Linked DNA regions of Homo sapiens: all the other regions are reported to be linked to region 3. The links are microRNA targets in miRTarBase. Many come from high-throughput screens and were not tested one by one. Region 3 holds a microRNA gene; each other region holds the end of a gene's coding sequence.
Evidence for each region. The annotated mature microRNA hsa-miR-6880-5p reads UGGUGGAGGAAGAGGGCAGCUC and lies in region 3 at 1,156-1,177, shown strand. An mRNA with a match to its seed (bases 2 to 7 or 8) in the 3' UTR can be bound and repressed. Matches are read on the target gene's strand: a 7mer-m8 pairs with bases 2 to 8, a 7mer-A1 pairs with bases 2 to 7 and ends in A, and an 8mer does both.

Region 1: miRTarBase lists ZNF250 as a target of hsa-miR-6880-5p. Seed matches in the 3' UTR shown: 7mer-m8 at 1,076-1,082.
Region 2: miRTarBase lists ZNF786 as a target of hsa-miR-6880-5p. The part of its 3' UTR that is shown has no 7-base or 8-base seed match.
Region 4: miRTarBase lists XPO4 as a target of hsa-miR-6880-5p. Seed matches in the 3' UTR shown: 7mer-A1 at 1,982-1,988.
Region 5: miRTarBase lists FAM161B as a target of hsa-miR-6880-5p. Seed matches in the 3' UTR shown: 7mer-m8 at 2,520-2,526.

Annotation. Positions count from the first base shown.
Region 1 is chr8:144,878,920-144,882,129 of GRCh38, forward strand. It overlaps ZNF250 (zinc finger protein 250), which reads right to left. Exons shown (of 6, transcript NM_001109689.4): 6 at 1-3,210. The coding sequence ends at 2,596. Among named protein-coding and RNA genes, the nearest start is that of ZNF250, 21 kb to the right of the region's middle. RefSeq lists enhancers at 118-267, 468-657.
Region 2 is chr7:149,067,739-149,070,738 of GRCh38, reverse strand. It overlaps ZNF786 (zinc finger protein 786), which reads left to right. Exons shown (of 4, transcript NM_152411.4): 4 at 1-1,098. The coding sequence ends at 316. Among named protein-coding and RNA genes, the nearest start is that of ZNF786, 21 kb to the left of the region's middle.
Region 3 is chr12:124,335,393-124,338,392 of GRCh38, reverse strand. MIR6880 (microRNA 6880) reads left to right here and starts at 1,151; the gene lies at 1,151-1,212. NCOR2 (nuclear receptor corepressor 2) reads left to right here. Exons shown (of 49, transcript NM_006312.6): 40 at 1,213-1,640; 41 at 2,761-2,910. RefSeq lists a silencer at 1,759-1,939.
Region 4 is chr13:20,781,040-20,784,249 of GRCh38, reverse strand. It overlaps XPO4 (exportin 4), which reads left to right. Exons shown (of 23, transcript NM_022459.5): 23 at 331-3,210. The coding sequence ends at 528. Among named protein-coding and RNA genes, the nearest start is that of EEF1AKMT1, 8.7 kb to the right of the region's middle.
Region 5 is chr14:73,931,489-73,934,698 of GRCh38, forward strand. It overlaps FAM161B (FAM161 centrosomal protein B), which reads right to left. Exons shown (of 9, transcript NM_152445.3): 9 at 788-2,906. The coding sequence ends at 2,768. It overlaps ZNF410 (zinc finger protein 410), which reads left to right. Exons shown (of 12, transcript NM_021188.3): 12 at 15-1,033. The coding sequence ends at 53. Among named protein-coding and RNA genes, the nearest start is that of FAM161B, 17 kb to the right of the region's middle.

The DNA.
Region 1 (3,210 bases), not on the chromosome of region 3:
TAACACCCAGTGATCTCACCTCCTCTCTGATGAAACACCTCAGTGTACTCAGATCCTCTGAAGTAACAAAAATTGTCTCACTTTCTTTCTGAAGTGACGCCTCAGTGATCTCAGCTCTTCTCCAAAGAAACAGTTAAGCTCTTGTCTTCTCTGAACTAACACCTTAGTTATTTTATCTATCTGAAACAACACCTCACAGAATGGCAACACCTCTAAGGTTAACACCTTGGTTATCTGAGCTATCTGAGGTTTCACTTCAGTGATCTCAGTCCCTCTGAAGTAACACCTCAGTAATATTAGTTCCTCTGGAATTTCACTTCAGTGGTTTCAGTTGCTCTGAAGTAAAACACCAGTGATGTCAGCTCCTTTCTCAAGTTAACCAATCAGTTACCAGTTCCTCTCTGGAGTTAATAATTCACTGTTGTCAGTGTCTGTACATAGAAGGGGGAACAAGCTTTTGTCTACATCGTGGTGTTTTGCTGTGGACTTAAGGATCAATGCCTGGATGGGCACAGCAGCTCATGCCTGTAATCCTAACCTTTTGGGAAGGTGAGGTGGGAGGACTGCTTCAGCCCAGGAGTTTGAGGCAGCGGTGAGCCATGATGGCACCACTGCACTCCAACCTGGTGACAGAGCAAGACCGTCTTTAAAACAAACAAAAAGGATCAATATCCTGGTGACTATTTCCTCCCCACCAAACTGACAGATGTTGGGGGCGGGGGCCTGGGGTGAAGACAGCCCTTCTCTATCTCAGGCACTTAACATGTTGAGAATTTCAAGTGGCTTGAACCTCATACATTTGTTTCGTTTGCAGCTGGCTGCTACTAGAAATGGTTCTGATTCGGTTTCAAGAACTGTATCCTTGGCCGGGTGCGGTGGCACACGCCTGTAATCCCAGCACTTTGGGAGGCCGAGGCGGGCGGATCACCTGAGGTCAGGAGTTTGAGACCAGCCTGGCCAACATGGTGAAACCTCATCTCTACTAAAAATACGAAAATTAGTCGGGCGTGGTAGCAGGTGCCTGTAATTCCAGCTACTTGGGAGGCAGAGGCAGGAGAATTGCTTGAACCTGGGAGGTGGAGATTGCAGTGAGCTGAGATTGTGCCATTGCACTTCAGCCTGGGGAACAAGAGCAAGACTTTGTCTCAAAAAAAAAAAAAAAAGTATGCTTAAAACAGAACAAATAATTCTGAATACAAATTTTTAATTATGAATAAACTAGATTCATCTTCATCATAGTAATATGGCAATGGATACTGGACTCTTGAACCAGGAGTAAAAAAATGAAAAAAAAAACCCCTTCAAATATAGGAATAGAAATACTAGAGATAGTAAAAAAGAGCTATCTGAATTTGAGAAATGTATGTTTTAAATATATCTACCAAAGAACAGTATTTTCAGCATTGTTTTGGGGGAAATACCATAAGATGTAAAGAGGTACCCACTTGGTGTAACAGCTATGAGGTCTGCTGAGTGTGAAGCTCCCCTCCTTTGCCTGCATGGGAATTGAGACATCTCACGGTTTCTGGGGCACAGGATCTGCAGGTCATAAGGGCAAGTTTTGAGGAAAATACCCATTTTTGAGTTGAATTTTTACTAAAAAGTTAGCATAACCTTTCTGATCTTGAATAAAGTTAAAAGCTCCAGATAAAGGGTTTTCTAGGCCAGGCATGGTGCCTCACGCCTGTAATCCCAACACTTTCGGAAGCAAAGGTGGGAGGATCACTTGAGGCCAGGAGTTCGAGACCAGCCTGGCCAACACGGTGAAACTCCGTCTCTACTAAAAATACAAAAATTAGCCAGGTGTGGTGGCGCATATCTATAATCCTAGTTACTTGGGAGACTGAGGCACAAGAAAAGCTTGAACCTGGGGTGGGGGCGGAGACTGCAGTGAGCCAAGATCATGCCACTGCACTGCAGCTTGGGCAACAGAGCAAGACTATCTCCACACACACATACAAAAAGTTTTTTAAATTTATGTAATTTCTCACTAATATATAAGCTTTTTCCTTGTTTCATACAAAACAGGACTCCACACACTTAGGATGGAAATCCACACACTTAGGATTTCCAACCATTTTACATGATGCTTGATGAAAATATCTTTTTATATCACTTTATCCATACAATACTTTAGTCTTTTAAGAGAATACTGAAAATAGTCCGACTTTCAAATTTTAAGTGCAATAATTAGTATGGTTAATTGATATTTAGGAAGGGCATGTAATGTTCTTAGAAAAAGAACTTTATTTGGAATGTAAGATTTTATTGGGATAATGGTTCTTATGCCTTAAATTCCCTTAGTTCAAATAAACTAATGTTAAAGAATTATGGCTGTTTTTTACCAAAATTCTCTACAATTGTATGATTACTCTCCAACATAACTTCAAGATGTTGAGGAAAATAAAACAGGTAGTCTCTGAAGTTTTTCCACAGGAACAGCACGCTAAGTGCTTCTTTCTGGAGTTATTTTGTGACACTGAATCGCCAAAGAAAAGCTTCCTATAGAGTTAACAGAGACTTCTCTTGGGCTGAAGGCTGCTTGTGGTTCCACATGCAGTTTCTGTGAGAATGGATTCTTGTGTCAGCCATGGGTCACAACTTTCTGTGCACTTTCTGGTGCTGGATTAGGTGGCCATGCTGGTTGAAGGCACGCCCACACTCCCCGCACTCATAGGGCTTCTCGCCTGTGTGGATCCGCTGGTGCTGGATGAGCACTGAGTACTGGCTGAAGGCCTTCCCGCAGCTATTGCACTCATATGGCTTCTCGCCCGTGTGGGTCCTCAGGTGCACAATCAGAGTTGCTTTCAGGCTGAAGGCTTTGCCACATTCTGTGCACTGGAAGGGCTTTTCACCTGTGTGGATTCTCTCATGCTGGATCAGAGACCGGCGTGCACTGAAGGCGTGCCCACATTCACCACACACATAGGGCTTCTCCCCAGTGTGGACTCTCTGGTGCTGGATCAGGTGTGAGTGCTGAACGAAGGCCTTCCCACATTCGTAGCATGCATAGGGCTTTTCCTCGGTGTGGATCCGCTCGTGATTCATCAGTGTGGAGCGGTGGCTGAAGGTCTTCCCACACTCACTGCACTCATAGGGCTTCTCCCCGGTGTGCACGTTGTGGTGCTGAATGAGGACTGAGCGGTCGCTGAAGGCCTTCCCACACTCGCTGCACGTGTAGGGCTTCTCCCCGGTGTGGATCCTCTGGTG
Region 2 (3,000 bases), not on the chromosome of region 3:
TCCCAAGTGTGACAAGAGTTTCCGCCTGAAGGCGCAGCTGCTCAGCCATCAGGGCCTGCACACAGGGGAGAGGCCTTTTCACTGCCCTGAGTGTGACAAGAACTTCCGGGAAAGGGGACACATGCTGAGGCACCAGCGCATCCACAGGCCCGAGAGGCCCTTTGCCTGTGGCGATTGTGGGAAGGGCTTCATTTACAAGTCTAAGCTTGCGGAGCACATCAGAGTACACACAAAATCCTGTCCTGCTCCAAATGAACTGGACATTAAGAAAAGGCTCAGCCAACTGTTTGCAATGATAGAGGCCGATTGGAGTTGAGGCAGAGTGGGACATCCAAAGCGTTGAGCAGGATTGGTATTGCCCAGGAATCCACAGCAACAGTAGCCAGACCCGCTGGTAGACGGGTTTTAGGAGCAGGTATCCTTCTTTGAGCAAGAGTGTCATGCAAGTTAGGAATATGAAGAACCACAAAGGATTTTCTCTTCAGAAGCATCACCAATTATATTTCTTTCTTTTTTTTTTTTTTTTCCAAGATGGAGTTTTGCTCTGTCACCCAGGCTGGAGTGCAGTGGCGTGATCCCAGCTATATTGGAAAAGACAGCATTATAAAACAAGGACATAATTTTATGAAAAAGGAGGCATCTGCAAACGAAAACAATTTCTACGAGGTTATATGTGATTGTTAACATTTTTAAGAAAAGGTGCACACAGAAATCCAGATAAGATGTGATTACCTTTGTGCATTTGTATAAAAATATATGTGTGTAATTATAAGGAAGTTCTGACATTTTAAAAAGTAATTGTTATAAAAGTAAATTTAGGCCAGGCACAGTGGTTCATGCCTGTAATCCCAGCACTTGGGAGGCCGTGGCAGGAGGATCACGAGCCAAGGAGTTTGAGACCAGCTTGGGCAACATGGCAAAACCCTGTCTCTACTAAAAATACAAAAATTAGCCAGGCATGGTGGTACACACCAGTAGTCCCAGCTACTCCTGAAGCTGAGGTGGGAGGATCGCCTGAGCCCAGGGAGGTCAAGGCTGCAGTGAGCAATGATGGTGCCACTGCACTCCAGTATGGATGACATAGTATGACACTGTCTCAAAAAAAAAAAAAAAAAAATTTGGGCCAGGGGTGGTGGCTCACGCCTGTAATCCCAGCACTTTGGGAGGCTGAGGCGGGTGGATCACAAGGTCAGGAGATCGAGACCATCCTGGCAAACACAGTGAAACCCTGTCTCTACTAAAAATACAAAAAAAAAAAAAAAATTAGCCGGGTGTGGTGGCAGGCACCTGTAGTCCCAGGAGGCTGAGGCAGGAGAATGGTGTGAGCCCAGGAGGCGGAGCTTGCAGTGAGCCAAGATCAAGCCACTGCACTCCAGCCTGGGTGACAGAGCGAGACTCCGTCTCAAAAAAAAAAAAAAAACAAATTTAGTATCTCCCAAAGGAAGCTTGGCAAGTCCTTTTCATTCTCTTTAGAATTTATAGAATATAGCCTGGCGTGGTGGCTCATACCTATAATCCCATTACTTTGGGAGGTCAAGGCAGGAGGATCACTTGAGGTCAGGAGTTCAAGACCAGACTGGCCAACATGGTGAAACACCATCTCTACCAAAAAGTACAAAAATTAGCCGGGCATGGTGGCATGCACCTGTAGTCTTGGCTACGCCGGAGGCTGAGGCAGGAGAATCGCTTGAACCCCAGAGGTGGAGGTTGCATTGAGCTGGGATTGCACCACTGCATTCCAACTTGGGAGACAGAGCAAGACTCCATCTCAAAAAAATTATAGAATATATAATTAATATATAAAGATACAGAATAATATATAATTATAAATTCCTTTTTTTTTTTCTTTGAGATGGAGTCTTGCTCTGTCGCCCAGGCTGGGGTGCAGTGGCATGATCTCGGCTCACCGCAAGCTCCACCTTCCGGGTTCATGCCATTCTCCTGCCTCAGGCTCCCAAGTAGCTGGGACCACAGGCGCCCGCCACCACGCCCAGCTAATTTTTTGTATTTTTAGTAGAGACAGAGTTTCACCGTGTTAGCCAGGATGGTCTCGATCTCTTGACCTCGTGATCCGCCCGCCTCAGCCTCCCAAAGTGCTGGGATTACAGGCATGAGCCACGGTGCCGGCCTTTCTTTTCTTTTTTTTTTTTTTTTTGGAGTCTCTGTCAGCCAGCCTGGAGTACAGTGCCATGATCTTAGCTCGCTGTATCCTCCACCTCCCAAGCTCAAGTGATCCTTCTTTCTCAACCTCCTGAGTAGCTGGGACTAAAGGCGCACGCCATCACGTGCCACCATGCCTATTTTTGTATTTTTAGTAGAGACTAAAAATACAAAAAATATAAAATGTGGGCCAGGCTGGTCTTGAACTCCTGACCTCAGGTGATCTACCCACCTCAGCCTCCCAAAGTGCTGGGATTATAGGTGTGAGCCACCGTGCCCGGCCTATACTTCGCCATTTGTCTCTTAACACGGGTGCCCAAGAAGCTGCTGCTTGGGGGGCTGTATTCAATTAACACTTTTAATGTTAACAGGTGTGGACCATCAAGAGATTGTCTCTCCCTGGCTGCCGAATTCTCATTCTTAGAGAGGCAATTTGTTAATTGCTGAACCATCACCTGACATTTCTAGTGGGTCGGGAGAGAGCCCTCTGCTGCCCTGTTGATGCCTAACTACCTGTAACAATCTGATTATTGTAAGTTTTCCTGTATCCAGTATCACCTCCAATATTTATCAAGGAGTTGTGTGAAATACCACCTCACAACCAGATGAAGAATTTTATCACCACCTCCTCCAATTCCTCATGAGGGAGAAGTAGGAATTGCTCTGAGCCTAAGGTAGAAACCGTTCCTGAAATGTTGAAAACCGTCATTGTGAGTAGGTGAGTGGAGTGGTGGAGTAGTGAATCACCTGTACAATGGCACTGTCAAAAGACAAAATTACAACACATTTAGTTTAAAAATCTTAATTGGCTTATTTGGTATTCTAGAATTGAGCAACACT
Region 3 (3,000 bases):
GCAGTTACAGGCACGTGCAACCACACCCGGCTAATTTTTATATTTTTAGTAGAAATGCGGTTTCACCACGTTGGCCAGGCTGGTCTCAAACTTCTGACCTCAAGTGATCTGCCTGCCTCAGCCTCCCAAAGTGCCGGGATTACAGGCGTGCGCCACCGCACTCAGCCTCCAGGACCTATTTAGAGGCAACTTACTCCTCCAAAATGAATTTTCATTCAAAAAAGTACTTGTGCCCCAACTTGCCGCTTGGATGCCTGAAGTCATACCTCCCCTAATCATTATTTCAATTATGAAAAATGGCATCGTTTCCCAAAAGCAGTGGCGACTTTGTCACCCCTGACTCAGACCCAGCAGGTGCATGAAGCACTAATCCCTGGCTGTGGGGAGCAGGGTTCCGCACACAGGCTCTGTGGGATATGCCCGTGACAGCCGATTCAAAAATATAATGGAGAAAACGAGTGCCTGCCCACTGCCCGCTCATGAATGAGGCTCTGGGAGGTAGAGTTAGCGAGAGATGGGGGTGCCCCCATGGAAACGCAGGGCTCCGGGAAGGCCACGTGGGTGGAGCAGCCGGCTCCTGTTCCAGCCCCAGCCCTGTGCAGGGGCAGCTGTGCCCCAGCTTCTCACTCACAGAGCTGGGAACAGCAGCTTTCTCTGTTCTCAACGCCCACCCTGGCCGCCCCCTGGCATCCTTCCCCTTGCTCTCTCACTCCTCACGTGGCTTTTTTAGCTCTTCGGGTATCCTGAGCAGGCCCAGCTCCCTCATGTGCCCCCTCCCTGAAGACCTCCTAGCCCTGCCTCAGCTTCCTTGCCGTTCTCTCCTGGTACCTCATTGACTACCTCCACACAGTTACCAGGCTCTGTAGAGCTTGGGATATCTGTTAATGTGATCGTAGTCTGTTTTCTGAATTAGATGGTAAGATGCTTGCATCCGTTTTATGACCGCTGTATTCACAGTGTCTAGAACAGTGCCTGGCACCTAGTAGCTGCTTAATCAGAAGTTTTGGAATGATGCAAGGAATGAATGAACGAATGAGTGGGATGGGTCAAACCATGACGCACAGAGTCTGGCAGGTTACAGTCAGGAGGGCAGTTTCACTCTGGGAGCAGCAGGGGATGTGGATTTATCCCAGGGCAATGGGGACTCATCGAGGGTGGTGGAGGAAGAGGGCAGCTCCCATGACTGCCTGACCGCCTTCTCTCCTCCCCCAGGTCCACCTCCACCTCCTCACCCGTTCGCCCGGCTGCCACATTCCCACCTGCCACCCACTGCCCACTGGGCGGCACCCTCGATGGGGTCTACCCTACCCTCATGGAGCCCGTCTTGCTGCCCAAGGAGGCCCCCCGGGTCGCCCGGCCAGAGCGGCCCCGAGCAGACACCGGCCATGCCTTCCTCGCCAAGCCCCCAGCCCGCTCCGGGCTGGAGCCCGCCTCCTCCCCCAGCAAGGGCTCGGAGCCCCGGCCCCTAGTGCCTCCTGTCTCTGGCCACGCCACCATCGCCCGCACCCCTGCGAAGAACCTCGCACCTCACCACGCCAGCCCGGACCCGCCGGCGCCACCTGCCTCGGCCTCGGACCCGCACCGGGAAAAGACTCAAAGTAAACCCTTTTCCATCCAGGAACTGGAACTCCGTTCTCTGGGTAAGACCACCCTGACAGCGGCCACCTTCATAGACGCGATTATCATGCGTCAAATTGCTCACGATAAAGGGGCGCGAGAAGGAGGTGCGCTGGCCAACGGCTCCCCTCGCGATGGTAAGACTTCCGGCCCGCACCCACCCCGTCTCGTGGTCCAAAGATATTTTCAGATCTCTGCTTTTTACTTTGGCCCCCGTTTTTTTTGTTGTTGGTTTTGGTATTTTGTTTTGAAGCCCATCCGTCCTCGCCGGTTTGCACGCGCTGACGACTACTCCGGCCGCGCCTGCCCCTCTGGTTTGGGGGCGCTCATCATTTGCACATCATTTTACCATGGTTTTTTTTTTTTGGATTTTTGCTTTTTTTTCTTTAATGAATGGATCTGTGATTCTGACTTCGACTGCGCCCCCATCTCCCTCTTTGCGCCTGTGTCCAGGGAGCAGGGATGGGGCTGCGGGAGGGCTCGGGCCTACGCCCCCACCTGCCGGCTGCCTGGATGCTGTCGGACTGGGGGAAGTGGAGGCAGGCGGTGCAAGGAGAAGCTGAGGCGGGGCAGGGACCTGCGCTGTCGAGGAGGAGCTGGGTCTGGCTCTTGCATCTTGCCCTGTCCCCAGCCCCTGTACCCCAGAAAAAGGGGAGCCCTCTGCCTCTGGACCCCTGCCTTGGCCCTAGTTCATGGCTCCTCTCTGTTGGACTGGGATGGCCGAGGCTATAGCCCAGGCGGGGCCCCGGGGACCCAGGGTCACTCCCAGCCACACCCCCACTTCTCACTCCGCCCCACACACTCCTTCCCCAGAGACCCATGCTGCCCCCATCTCACGCTGGCCTCGCCCGGCCTCCACCACCTGAACCCATCTCTGTCCCTTCTTGCCTAATCTCTCTCTGTGTCTCCCTCTCTGTCTGTCTCTGTCCCGGGCTCTGCATCTCTCTCCACCTCTCCCTTGGCCTCCCTGTCTCTCCCCAACACCCCTCTCTGCCTTACTGTCTTTGGGAGCCCAAACCCTACCCCTAGCTTGGGTTCCCCTTGACCCCCCCGGGGTCCCAGCCAGCTGGGAGGGCAGCCCTGCCCCTCGGGCTCCGAAACCCTGGGCCCGGTGCCTGACTCTGCACCCCCCGCCTGCCCTAGGTTACCACGGCAGCAGCTACAGCCCCGAAGGGGTGGAGCCCGTCAGCCCTGTGAGCTCACCCAGTCTGACCCACGACAAGGGGCTCCCCAAGCACCTGGAAGAGCTCGACAAGAGCCACCTGGAGGGGGAGCTGCGGCCCAAGCAGCCAGGTACGCCCCACCCAGTACCCAGGCCCCCGAAGCCCTGCACAGTGAGGACCCTCAAGGCCCCATCATGCAGATAGGAAAACAGAGGTGCCT
Region 4 (3,210 bases), not on the chromosome of region 3:
CAAAGTTGATTATCACATGGGTCTTGGGGCTAGATTGGTGGACTCTTGCTTGATCTGGGCCATATCACTTCACCTCACTGAGTGTCGAAACCTTCACCTCTGGAATGGGAATAGAAACAGTACCTGTCTCGAAGCATTGTTGTAAATGATAGATGAATTAATCCATGTAAAAGGTTTTCAAACAGTAGTACTTAAATGCTGAATTATTCTAAATGTTAACTCTTAAAAATGTGTCCCTGCCTTTTAGAACCCCACAGTCCAGTAACTGATAAGATCTACTTGTATGATATTCTAAGGAGGATACTTGTGTATACTTTATCTCTTCAATAGGCTGAATATTCTGAACTGGTCGAAACATTACTATCAAGTCAGCAAGACCCAGTTATTTACCAGAGATTAGCAGATGCCTTCAACAAGCTCACTGCAAGCAGCACTCCTCCTACGCTGGATCGGAAGCAGAAGATGGCCTTCTTAAAGAGTTTAGAAGAATTTATGGCAAATGTTGGTGGTCTCCTTTGTGTAAAATAAACAACAGAACTTTATGCTTAATTTAGATCCTTTCTGCAAAGTGCACTGAATTGCTGAAAGTTGACTTGAGTCTTGTCCTATTCCTCAGTTCATTTGGCCATTTTGGATTTTGGAGAGCCTGAAACTTTGATATGTATGTAATACAGTGAAACAGGAGAGGTCAACTTGGCATCAGCTTCTGCTGTTAAGTGTTAGCCACAATCTGTCATATATATGTCTTTTAGATTCTGAATGGTGATTTAAAATTTTCAAAATGAAATTCCATATATGTGCAAACAGATATGGGCACCACGAAATACATATGCAGTGCCTTTTTTCCTTTTAACATAGGTGGCTAGCCAAAGTTTAGAATTTTTGTCATTAAATATGAAATGGATATATGCTAGGCAGTGTTTCTCAAAATCTCCATAGATCGCCTGCATCACTTGAGGAGCTGGTGAAAAGGCAGATTCTTAGGCCCAACTGTAGACCTTCAGAGTCAGAATGTCTGGTTGTTGGGCCCAGGAGTCTTCATGTTAATAAGCTTCTCCCTTTCGTCACCCCAAAAGTTTTGAATCAATGAAAGAGACATTGAAAACTCTTAAGAGGTTTTGTGCTTTCTAGCTTTTCCTCCCTTTGATGATTGGGTTTTATAATTCAGCAGGAAGGGGAAACATCACCAGGGGTTTGTTGGCTTTTTCTTAGCTTGCTTTCTTGCTTGCTTGCTTTCTTGCTTTTCTTGCTTTCTGTCTCTCTCTTTCTTTTCTCTCTCTCTCTCACATCAACCCAGTGCTGCAGGTTTTGTGTAATACAAGTCACTAATCATACTCTGATGCCTGAACTTGAGGAGGAAAATACATGTATATTTTTGTTCCGTAAAAATAACCTTAGGAACTGTAGCCATTTCATTGCCTTAATTTTAAGAGGAAAATACAAAAACAGCTGATTTGTTTTAGTAAGAAACCACGTCTTGATGCTTCAGAGTTGGTTTAGGGTGTTAGCTGCTATGAACCTGTTGCCCCTTTCGATCGTGTATTTATGTAGGTTTATCAGTGAAATGAAAGGCTTGTTTCCGTCTAGTCTAACTTTTTGAGTGTGTTTCTATCCAGCCACATAGCCCATATCTACTCTAAATGGCTTGCTTAAGCAATAATTATTTTAAAGGATGTGAATCACTGATTCACACAGACTATTGCACGTTGGGGCATTAGGGGCAATAATTCTTATCCAGACATGGGAGCCAGTGAATTTAATTTCAGAGATTAAAAATTCACTTTAGATCCTCTAGTTTGATCTCTTAATCAGGATTTTTATACAGCTGCCAGGCTCCCCTAATTCAGTGTGCCAGCTTACAATGTGGAAATGAAAGCTAATTTATACACAGCAGGCATATGAAACTCCACTCATTGCAGTACTTTCACAGCACAGTGACAGGTAGAGGACTCTGGCACAGGTGCACTCATGAAACTCTGCTTCCACCATGTTCCTGACACCTATCTATTAAACCATTCTGCAAATACGGTTTTTCTACCTGATTGCATATAGCATATGTGTCATTACATGTGATGCTGTGCAAAACTTTGTATAATTCTGTGTTATTAACAGTTAACAAAACTGGAGCATCTGAATTACATCCAACCTGTGCATGTGATGTTAGGTAGATGTGAATGCAGGGCCTTGGGCCATAACTTACATTTCTCTCAATTTGATTAGCTTTGAGTCACAATTAAGGGGAAGCAAAAACATCTTGAAAAGACTGCTAGGAAGGAAATTAATATCAGTCATCCAGAAGTACACGTTTCTGTATTTTAAAAAATACTTTGATGCATTTATTTTTAGGTGTTTTTTTTTTCCCCTTAAAAAACTTGAAGTGATATGCAGCAGTAATCTATTTGTTTTGCATTGTTCTTGGTGTTTTGTGTTTCCCAGATCCCTCAAGCTTTCTCAGCTGTTGTGAATTATGTGTATCTGTGTGTGTGCTAAGTACAGTCTCTTTACCAAAGGGCACTGAAACACACAATTGACTGGACAGGTCCACGCGCCATGACAAAACTATAATCAAGTTATTAAAACTAAAGAGGAGTGGGAAAGGAATGCCTTGGTAAGTAAAAAGGCATCTATATTTAATAACTTTTATCCAGATGGCAACATATTTGCAAAATTTGCCCAGATCCTATTACAATACTAAAAATAGAAAATTTCACCTCCATATTCCTGAGGTGTAATTTCATTAGACTAGTTTTAGTTTAAAAAGACCTTCTTCAGATTGGACCAAATAATACTTATAAGATCAGCAGAATGTTGAATATTAGCTCACTGGGGTGGGGAGAAGCCACTACCATTTTTTAGGTGATGGGGATGCCACTGAGTTGCAACGGCTAGACCTTTTCAGGGTGGTTGTGTCCATGTTTGCCTGATTGGATGCTTATTCACTTTGTGTTTTCTTTTGTTTTATTTTGTCCAATTTTGTCTTTAGCTGTGTTTATTAACTTCTCCGGTCTTGTTTTGTTTTAATGCTCTTGGCCCAGTGGGTGTCAAGAACACTGGCTTAATTCAAGTCAGTTGATTTTTTTTCTATTAAAACTGTTGTTAAAATATTTTTTAAAACAAAAACATTATTTGTGCCCTCTTTTATATATGTCAAAGGGACACTGTCAAGTATTTCATTTTTAGATTTTTGTTTTATAAAATTTCTGTTGTTCA
Region 5 (3,210 bases), not on the chromosome of region 3:
TCAATCTTTTACAGTTACTAAACCAAGGAGATTTAACTGAAAGACGGACATGAGCGTGGGTGCTGACTCCTGGAAGAGCAACTCTATCTGATCTCAAAATGCGTATACTGGGAACAGGATGCCTTAGCCCACAACAGAACCAGAATGAATCTTTGAAGGCACAAGACTCTGCTTTTGCCACTCTTCCTCTTTCCTGGTATAGAAGATGGATGTAGGAGAGCTTCTTTTCTAACTACCATCTGATCAGACAAGGAATGAAGCAATGACTGTGGGCTGGGAAACTGTACCTACCTCTCTTCCCACTGCAAATTTCTGGGATAGACCAAAAGTGAATTTGATTATGTGTTGGCTGAAGTTCTTCATTCTGACTGTTGAGGGGAGGTTTTCCTTTGAAGAGTTTTCATCCCAGACTCAGCTGTCTTTTCACATGGATGAAATAATTCCTGCTACCAACAACAGAGCTTCACCAGGAAGTTGAGTTTTCAAGATGCCTTGTTGCTTTGAAGAAGGGAGTGATGTCAATTCTCTTGTTACATTCTCCCTTTAGCAACCTGAGTAAGAGACTCTCTGCCACTGGGCTGCAAAAAAATAAATTACTTGAATCTCCCCTTGGCCCAGGCTGAGGTACTATCTTGTCCTATACACTTCTACTTGGTCACTTTGCTTTCTTCGTTAATGGAACATACAGTAGCATGTTAAGAGGGATTTCATGTTTTTGTTTTTTTAAAGTTAAAAATTACATGATGCAGAGATTCAGGTTTTCCTTTAAATAAACAAAACAGCCCAGTCAGTTCTTTGGCTCTTGTTTTATACAAAATTTGTTTTCTTAGAGATTAAGAATTTAATCTTTCCCTTTAAAATAGTGTATTGATTTACCCTTAGGATTCCATACCAGTAAAACTGAACCGAGGAGTCTTAGGAAACAACAAGAACATCTTCATTTCTTAAGCCCAGGTGATAGTTACTCTGTCACCACCAAAAAAGACGCATCTGAGAAAATGGCAATAAAAACAGATACTTCTGAATTTTTCCACAAAGATAGTTTTTTTAAAAAAGCTTGAGAAAGGTGCTTTAGTTAGAGCAGGCACTCTTGCTATCAGTCATCCTGTCTCCACAGCTACTGAGAAAATATCCACTCATCATCATTATGATTTGAGATGGGGTCTTGCTCTGTCACCCAGGCTGGAGTGCAGTAGTGTAATCATAGCTCAATGTAACCTTGAACTCCTACGCTCAAGGCATCCTCCCACCTCAGCCTCCTGAATAGCTAGGACTATAGGCATGTACCACCAGTCCAGCTAACTTTTTGTGGTTTTTTTGGTAGAAATGAGGTCTGTGTTGCCCAGGCTGGTCTTGAACGCCTGGCTTCAAGCGATCCTCCTGCCTTGGCCCCTCAAAGTGCTGGGATTACAAGCATGAACCACTGCACCGAGCCAGAATATCCAATTATTATTGGTGAGAAGAAAATTATTCCAAAGTTCACCTACTAGTAGAAAATCTTGGTTGTCTGGGAAATTTTAAGTTTACTTAAAATGAACCTCATGCTCACATAAACACACAGGCACATTCTAAACAGATAACGGGAGAGAATTGTTTTAAATTCTTAATTTGTTAATGACATGCATAATCACATAGTACATAGACTGTGTTCATGGCAATTACTTGTATTCTTAGAATGCCAGTTTTTGCTTCATGCAGCCATTTATATTAGAGCAGTGGTTCTCAGCCAGGCACATTTTTGCCCCCTGGGGATATGCAATATCTGGAGACATTTTTGGTTGTCACAGCTGGGGAGAGGGGTACTACTGGCATCTAGCAGGTAGTGGCCAGGGATGCTACTAAACATTCTACAATGTACAGGACAGTTCCCTTCCCCAACCCTCAACAAAGAATTAGGTGGCCCAAAATATTAATAGCACTGAGGATAAGAAATCCTGTACTAGAAGTTGTAAGTTTTTCATCCCCCATGGGCTAGATCTGATATGCAGATGTATTTTATTTTGCCCATACAATATTTCTAAGTAATTTTTAAATTAGTTGATAGCATACAAATTTCTGGCTTGATGAAAATGTAGTTGATGTAGTAACTCTGAGCCTATATTCCAGCAGGATTTGATACTTTCCAGTGTCTACTATCTCCTACTGTCTACACCCACTCCATGGACGCATTTATGTTTCTGCACTAGCCCCTTATAGGCATTTGGGCCTGTGCTCTCTTTTCTGTACCTAATTCTCTAAGTGTGAGGCACAAAGCAGGAACCCTTAACTTTAGGCTACCATCCCTCCACCTGAGCCTCCCCACTTTGATTTCCTTGAACTATTCTCTGTTATCTGCTGCTCTTTTTTTTTCTCAGACAGAGTTTTGCTCTGCTGCCCAGGCTGGAGTGCTGTGGAGTGATCTCAGCTCATTACAACCTCTGCCTCTTGGGTTCAAGTGATTCTCCTGCCTCAGCTTCCCAAGTAGCTAGGATTACAGGCACGTGTCATCACGCCCAGCTAATTTTTGTATTTTTAGTAGAGGTGGAGTTTTGCCGTGTTGGCTGGACTGGTCTCAAACTCCTGACCTCAGATGATCTGCCTGCCTCAGCCTCCCAAAGTGTTGGGATTACAGGCGTGAGCCACTGCGCCTGGCCTGTTAATCTGCTACTCTTCATTTGTCCATCCTCTAACAGTAGCCATGACTCAAAACCCAAGTTTTCCCTGCCTTGACTCAAACCCAAGTTAGCTGCTTAATATTTTTCAAAAGCAGTAATTTTAAGTGTAGTGATTAAGCAAGTGATACGAGATTTTCTGGTGACTGATGAGACAGCTCCTCCAGTACTTTCCTGGGGCTTGCAGGCTGTTCTAGAGATCCTTCTAAACCCTGCTCTGGATCTCTGATGCTGAGTTTTGTAGTTTCTTGGAACCTGCAGAATAAATTAAAACATGAAAAACAAAAAAAATTTTTTTTTCAGACAGGGTCTCACTCTCACCCAGGCTGGAGTGCAGTGGCATGATCTCAGCTCACTGCAGCCTGGACAGCCCAGCTGAAGCAACCCTCCCACCTCAAGCAATCCTCCCACCTTAGCTTCCCAAGTAGCTGGGATTATAGGCACGTGCCACTGCACCCAGCTAATTTTTTTTTTTTTTTTAACTTTTTGTAGAGACAGGGTTTTGCCATGTTGCCCAGGCTGGTCTCAAACTCCTGGGCTCAAGCGATCCACCCACGTC